2 linked regions of the Homo sapiens genome follow. The protein of the gene in region 2 purifies or fractionates together with the protein of the main gene of each other region. This does not show direct contact. Each region holds a gene or a part of one and is shown on either strand. Other genes may lie near its edges.

Region 1 (3,837 bases), on a different chromosome or scaffold from region 2:
TTTCTTGTCTTCTCCTTGAGAAAAATAGGCCATTAATTTTTTCCAACTATGAAGAGTAGGTGGGAACTACCTCCTGTCTTGAGAAGCATGAAGGAAAAGTAGCTACTTTCCTTTCAAATACATCTAAGTATGTTTGCAGGTTTTGTGGCAGCAATACTTACTAATCTAGTTAATTTAAGATTCAACTTTTTTTCAATTCACTTCTTTTGTAAGTTAGGTATCATTAATCAGATATTTACTCATTTTAGCTTCTACCTGTTCTTCTCTAACATCAAGTGTCTCACTGGATGGCCCTATCCATTAGCACCTCAGGGCAGAAACATGGTAGTCATGTTCAAGTTTTTCTCTTTAGCATCCTACACCCAGTCTGATACTCAGTTCTGTCAAATTTATGTTTCAAATTAATTCCCTTGTCTCCAATACTAGTGCCACCACCTGAGGTGTAAGGCCCTCAGCAATTTTCATCTGGATTACTACTCCTCAAACATTTCAGCCTTCTGACTGGTCACCTGCTAATACCCTCTTTACAAATTAATTTTTCATAATTTCTATGTGCTAATATATATAAAATGAAGTTTATGGTTGAGTGAACTGTGTCATGAATACTTTAAATGATGAAAAAATTCCCAAGTTTCTTGGAATTTAACTATTTTGAATATTGCTACTTACTTTGGGAATGCATCAAAACAGTAGGTCTTCTTGGTATCAGGAAAGGCAACTCGCATTCCCGAAGTCAGAGGAGAATGAAGAATAACAGCAGCACTCTCATATCGAGCAGCAAGATCCACAGACGGTACTGTCCCTATACTTTGGCCATATATAATCACATTTTCAGGGCGAATGCCATATCTACAAAGTTCAGGCGTTAAAAACAAAAACCAAAAAAGTTGGAGTGATATGAAATGTTCCATCATTCCAAAGGATTTGATCTTAGAATAAGACAATGTCAACTAATCCATTTTTTAAACTTAAGTTTCTTAGCTATTACTGTTAGTTTTAACATTACAATAAAGTCTGTATCATCAGTTTATTTCATGTGTTTCTCTACTTCATCTTTTGGAAGAATAATTGCTGAGGTATTTTAAGATTTCAATCTTAAGAAATAAATTTATTAAATAATTTATTACACTATAATATTTCAACCTAGCTTACTGCTGACTAAGCTTGGGGCATATCACTAATATTTTAATGAACTGATGTTGAATGAATAGGTCATATTTATTTTCCGTTCAGTGTAACAAAAGTTATTTATTTCTCCACACATCAAGAGTGGCTCATTTTAATTTCCAAAATTGGTCATATTGATGAACTGTTACATATAGTTATGGTATGAAATGAATATATGTATGGTTTTAGTAAAGGGCAAATTATGATTTTACGATTTTTCTTAAAATTGATCTTTGCTTAGTTGTAGAAATGGACTAATGGTTGAAAAGATAAAAAAGAATTCCAAACACCACATGGTCCAATTATTTATGATTAGACTTTACGCTAAAATTACAAGGTACTATTTTAATCCCTTTAAAATGGCCACAGGTTTAAATAGATGAAAACTCATTGACTCAATAAATATTTATTGGGTACCTAGTATGTTCAAGGAACTGCTTGCTACTTGTCTACAGTATAATCATCCCAAATGTAAACTACTGCAAGTGTAAGTACAGTGCTACCTGAGCTAATGAATGTGGGCTTAAAGGTTATAGTGACATTAAATACACCTTTCCACTTAGAAGGCAGACAGCAGTCACTCTGGCAGCTAAGAACATAACAGCTGCTTTTGGAAATCTTTTGCAAAGGTAAAATATCTTTCTAAGAATCTGGATATTCACCAGGAAAGAGCGAGGGAAACTGTCCGTGTGTTCTCTTCCAGGGGCATAATACTATTTCAACTATACAGGTAGTAACACAGCTCTCCCCATATAGTTTCTTCAAGTCAGTACTACACAAGCATTTGTATAGGACACAGAAAGTGGGGCTCTGTCTACTTCAAATTGACTCTAAATATTAGCAAACTCAGAAAAGCTTTTTTCTTTACAACAGACCTAGTTGCACATATTTCATACGAATGAAGAAATTAGGAGAATGAACATTTGCAGCATGACCACAGTTCTTGAGGCTGCATTGTTGCTGTCAGCTGAATATCAGCATTGTTGGTGGCAATCATGAAATTTGGGCTACAGCTAGCAATGACAATGCTCAAGGATAGAGTCGCAGAGGTAGCTGACAATTAAGCATGAGGGGACTCACAAGAGTAACAACTGCCTAACAGTATGAGCTAGAAAGGAGTTTAGAGACCATCTAATCTAGAGTCCAGCTGCCTAATGAGCAGATCTTCAAAGTCACCAGTAGATGACAGCTCTATAATTAGAACCCAGGTATACTGACTCCCAGTTCAGTGTTTTTTACCTCTGAAGCACACAGATGAGGAACTCAAGGACTTTGTGGGAAAGGTGCATAGTGAATGCCAGGCCCCGAGTTTCTTTTGGTCCATCAGAAGGTCAGAAATTGGAGTTATTATGGATATCCAATTTTCCCAAAAAGGACATTCCAATGTTCATTCATCCCAAAAATGAACATTATTTAAGTTCATTATTTATTTTCTCTCTCCTGGTTACTTAAGTCCTAACTTTTAATCAGGCAAATAAAATAAAAGGCATGTATTCTAATTACACACATTTCATTAGATGACAGAATTCCAGAATTGGAAAAGATCTTGGGGATCATTTAATTCAATCTCTTCATTAAACAGATGAGGAAACACAGGCTCAGAGAAGTAATATTTCCTAAAGTACCTACACTTATGAAACTCCAACTATATTTTGGTTTCAACACGAAAGAAAACACAGGTCTAAAATTCTAAAATATAAGTGCTAAAATAGTATGTGGGATTATTGATGAAATCTGCCCATTCCTGATTAACACTGGCTATCAAATATGTTAAAAAAATTAAGGCTGAAAATCATTTTTCAAAGTTTTCTTCAAATTGGTAAATGCCAAGATTAAAAGAAAAGAAAAGAAAAAAACAGTAAAGTTGACCACTTAAAAAATGGGATTTTTTCATATAGACACAGAACACTGAACTGAATACTAACATGTTTTGTTTGAGTAAAGTGACCCTTTTGCGTTACTGGGAAGCACTAATAATGAAAGCTGGCTATCAGTTTTAACTTAGCACCCTTTAAAACTTCATTATTCCACTGAAGTTAACCTTTAAAAGTGTGAACCTTATCACTCAATAAAGCTATTTTTTTAATTATAATACTTTCTTATAGTTGTTATACGTTATTCAACTGACTGACTCTAAAAAGTGGGCACTCAGTTTCTGTTTGTTTTAAGGCTTGATGGAACTGATATCAATATATGTAAAAGATTTTTATTTAAAGCAGTTTTTAATTTATCAATTAAACAATAACTTTACCATCCCCCATCAACTCTTTACCTACTACTTGCCATCTTTTTTTCCTTATTCCCCATATTTATGTTTTTATATAATTTCAGTTGATTTTAAGAATCCCTTTTATGTAGAACTTCGCTATGAGAGCATAACTTTATTACATTTCTTTGGAGGGAAAAATAGTTTTAAAGATATTTTTAATATCTTTAATAATATTAACTACTTTATTATTAAAATTGAGGAAATTTTTCCTGACTAAATGAAATCTTTAATATTTAAACATTAAATTAGAAACAGTAAGTTTTCTTTATATCCTATAGCTTCAGTCTAAAACATCCTGGAAGTCAGATATTTTATTTTCATATAATATAAAGAATAGCCTATATTAAGGTATCTGTTTATTGTACACTAACCTGACTAATAATACACTGAAGTCTACCAAA
Region 2 (3,837 bases):
CCAAGTATCATTCATGACTACTTTTTCAGTTTAAGCTCAGTCTATCGGCAAGAAGCCAAAATCATTATTGGATTTCCTCACATACTTGGGAATAAAATAACAATAACAATACACATTTCCCTTTAATATAAAACTTTTCTCTAAAAGTTTTCGTAGATCTGGTGACACACCAGATCGAAAATAGTACTATTTGCTAGGGAATGACATGCTAAGGCACACTATCCCTGGCAGATACTACTACCTCCTAAAAATGATACTTCTTACTTATATCTTTAATGATCCATATAATGGTATTTAAAAAGTGGCTAGTAAATGACATCCTAAAGAACTATTAGGCAGTCTTAGTTATTAAACATAGATAAGAAGTCAGAGAATATACTTTAAAAACAAACATGTTTTTTGTTTGTTTGTTTGTTTTTTGTTTTTGTTTTTTTGAGAAGGAATAAGTGTAGTGGAGAAGACTAGACTTTAAATCCAGGAAACCTGGGTCGTATTCTGGTTGATTTTTTTCCCCTTCCAACTTTTATTTTAGATTCAGGGGGTACATGTGCAGGCTTGCCACATAAGTAAATTGCATATCATGGAGGTTTGGCTTACAAATGATTTTGTCATCCAGGTAATGAGCACAGTACCCAATAGGTAGTTTTTCAATCCTCACTCTCCTCCCAGCCTCCACCCTCAAGTAGGCCCCAGTGTCTATTGTTCCCCTCTTTGTGTCCATGTAAACTCAATGTTTAGCCCCCACTTATAAGTGAGAGCATGTGATATTTGGTTTTCTGTGCCTGTGTTAATTTACTTAGGATAATGGCCTCCACCTGCATCCACATTGCTGCAAAGGACATTATTTCATTCTTTTCAATAGCTGCATAGTATTCCATGGTGTATATGTACCACATTTTCTTTATTCAGTTCACCTCTTATGGGCATCTAGATTCCATGTCTTTGCTATTGTGAATAGGTGCACAATGAACATACGGGTACATGTGTCTTTTTGATAGAACGATTTATATTCCTTTGAGTATATACCTAGTAATGGGATTCCTAAGTCAAATCATAGTTCTGTTTTAAGTTCTTTGAGAAATTGTCACATTGCTTTCCACAATGGCTGAATTAATTTACATTCCCACCAGTGGTGTATGACCATTCTTTCTCCACAACCTCACCAGCATCTGTTATTTTTTGACTTTTAAATAATAGCCATTCTGACTGGTGTGAGATGCTATCTCATCATGGTTTTGATTTTCATTTCTCTAATGATTATTGATATTGACCATTTTTCATATGCTTATTAGATGCATGTATGTCTTCTTTTGAGAAGTGTTTGTTCATGTACTTTGCTAACTTTTTAATGGGGGTGTTTGGTTTTTTTGCTTGTTAGTTTGCTTAAGTTTCTTACAGACTTTGGATATTAGATCTTTGTCAAATGCATAATTTGAAAATGTTTTCTCTTATTCTTAGGTTGTCTGCTTCCTCTATTGATAGTTTCTTTTGCTATTCAAAAGCTCTTTAGTTTAATTAGGTTCCACTTGTCAATTGTTTTTTGTTGCAATTACTTTTGGCATCTTTATCATGAAATTTTTGCATCTTTATCATGAAATTTTTGCATCTTTATCATGAAATTTTTGCCAGGTCCTATGTCCAGAACGGTATTTCCTAGGTTTTCTTTTAGGGTTTTTATAGTTGTAGGTTATACATTTAAGTCTTTAATCCATCTTGAGTTAATTTTTGTATATGGGAAAAAGAAGGGGTCCAGTTTCAATCTTCTGCATATGGCTAGCCAGTTATCTCAGCACCAATTATTGAATAGACCATCCTTTCCCCATTGCTTGTTATTGTCAACTTTGTCGAAGATCAAATGATTGCAGGTGTTCAACTTTATTTCTGGGTTCTCTAACCCATTCCATTGGTCTATGTGTCTGTTTTTGTACCAATACCATGCTGTTTTGGTTACTGTAGCCTTGTAGTATAGTTTGAAGTCAAGTAATGCCTCCAGCTTTGCTCTTTTTGCTTAAGATTGCCTTGACTATTCAGGCTTCTTTTGGGTTTCATATGAATTTTAAAATAGTTTTTCTAATTCTGTGTTAGATGTCATTTGTATTTTGATAGGAGTAGCATTGAATCTGTAAATTGATTTGGACAGTATGGCCATTTTAATGATATTGATTCTTCCTATCCATGAACATGGAATGTTTTTCCATTTGTATCATCTCTGATTTCTTTGAGCAGTGTTTTAAAGTTCTCATTGTAGAGATCTTTCATTTCCCTGATTAGCTGTATTCACATTTTATTCTTTTTGTGGCTATTATGATTGGGATTATGTTCTTGACTTGGCTGTCAGCTTGGACATTGTTACTGATTTTGGTACATTGATTTTGTATCCTAAAACATTACTGAAGTTATTTATCAGTGTAAGGAGCCTTTAGAATGAGACTATGGGGTTTTTTAGATATAGAATCACATCATCCATGAAAAGAAGTAGTTTGACTTCCTCTCTTCCTATTCGAATGCCATTTATTTCTTTCTCTTGTGTGATTGCTCTGGCTAGGACTTCCAGTACTATGCTCAATAGGAGTGGTGACAGTGGACATTCTTGTCTTGTTTCAGTTCTCAAGGGGAATGCTTCAAGCTTTTGCCTATTCAGTATTATGTTGGCTGTGGGTTTGTCAGAAATGGCATTTAATATTATTATTGTTTTCTTTTTTTTTTTTTTTTGAGACGGAGTCTTGCTCTGTCACTTAGGCTGGAGTGCCATGGCACAATCTCAGCCCACTGCAACCTCTGCCTCCTGGGTTTAAGCTATTCTGGTGCCTTAGCCTCCCAAGTAGCTGGAATTACAGGTGCCTGCCACCACACCCAGCTAATTTTTGTATTTTTAATAGAGATGAGGTTTCACCATGTTGGCCAGGCTAGTCTCATACCCCTGACCTCAAGTGATCTGCCCGCCTCAGACAGGATACATGTGCACAATGTGCAAGTTTGTTACATAGGTGTACATATGCCATGGTAGTTTGATGCTCCTATTGACTCATCCTCTAAGTTCCCTTCCCTCGCCATCCAACCCTCACACACAGGCCCGGCTGTGTGTTGTTCCCCTCTCTGTGTCCATGTGTTCTCATTGTTCAACTCCCACTTATGAGTAAGAACATGTGGTATTTGATATTCTGTTCCTGTGTTAGTTTGCTGAGGATGATGGCTTCCAGCTGCATCCGTGTCCCTGCAAAGTACATTATCTCATTGGCTGCATGGTACTATGACTGCATAGTATTCCATGGTGCATATGTACCACATATTCTTTATCCAGTCTATTATTGATGGGCATTTCCGTTGGTTCCATGTCTTTGTTATTGTAAACAGTGCTGCAGTAAACATACATGTGCATGTATCTTTATAGTAGAATGGTTTATATTCCTTTGGGTATATACCCAGTAATGGGATTGCTGGGTCAAATGGTATTTTTGATTCTAGATCCTTGAGGAATAGCCATGCTATCTTCCACAATGGTTGAATTAATTCACATTCCCATCAACAGTGTAAAAGTGTTCCTATTTCTCCACAGCCTCGCCAGCATCTATTGTTTCCTGACTTTTTAATAATCACCATTCTCTCTGGCATGAGATGGTATCTCATTGTGGTTTTGATTTTCATTTCTCTGATGATCAGTGATGTTGAGCTTTTTTTCATATGTTTGTTGAGATGGCTTTTATTATTTTGAGGTAAGTTTCTTTGATGCTTAGTTTGTTGAGGGTTTTTAACATGAAGGGATGTGGAATTTTCTTAAGAGTCTTTTCTGTGTCTATTGAGATAATCTTGTGATTTTTGTTTTTAGTTCTGTTTATG

What was found.
Region 1: the proteins of LIPK (region 2) and ABHD17B purify together in Homo sapiens (affinity purification with mass spectrometry; one large-scale study listed by BioGRID and IntAct). This does not show direct contact.

What each region holds. Positions count from the first base shown.
Region 1 is NC_000009.12:71,869,414-71,873,250, forward strand, and holds part of ABHD17B (alpha/beta hydrolase domain-containing protein 17B), read right to left. Parts: intron 850-3,837; coding exon 670-849; intron 1-669. UniProt on the Homo sapiens protein: Hydrolyzes fatty acids from S-acylated cysteine residues in proteins. Has depalmitoylating activity towards DLG4/PSD95. Has depalmitoylating activity towards GAP43. Has depalmitoylating activity towards MAP6. Has depalmitoylating activity towards NRAS.
Region 2 is NC_000010.11:88,747,492-88,751,328, reverse strand, and holds part of LIPK (lipase member K isoform 1 precursor), read right to left. Parts: intron 1-3,837. UniProt on the Homo sapiens protein: Plays a highly specific role in the last step of keratinocyte differentiation. May have an essential function in lipid metabolism of the most differentiated epidermal layers.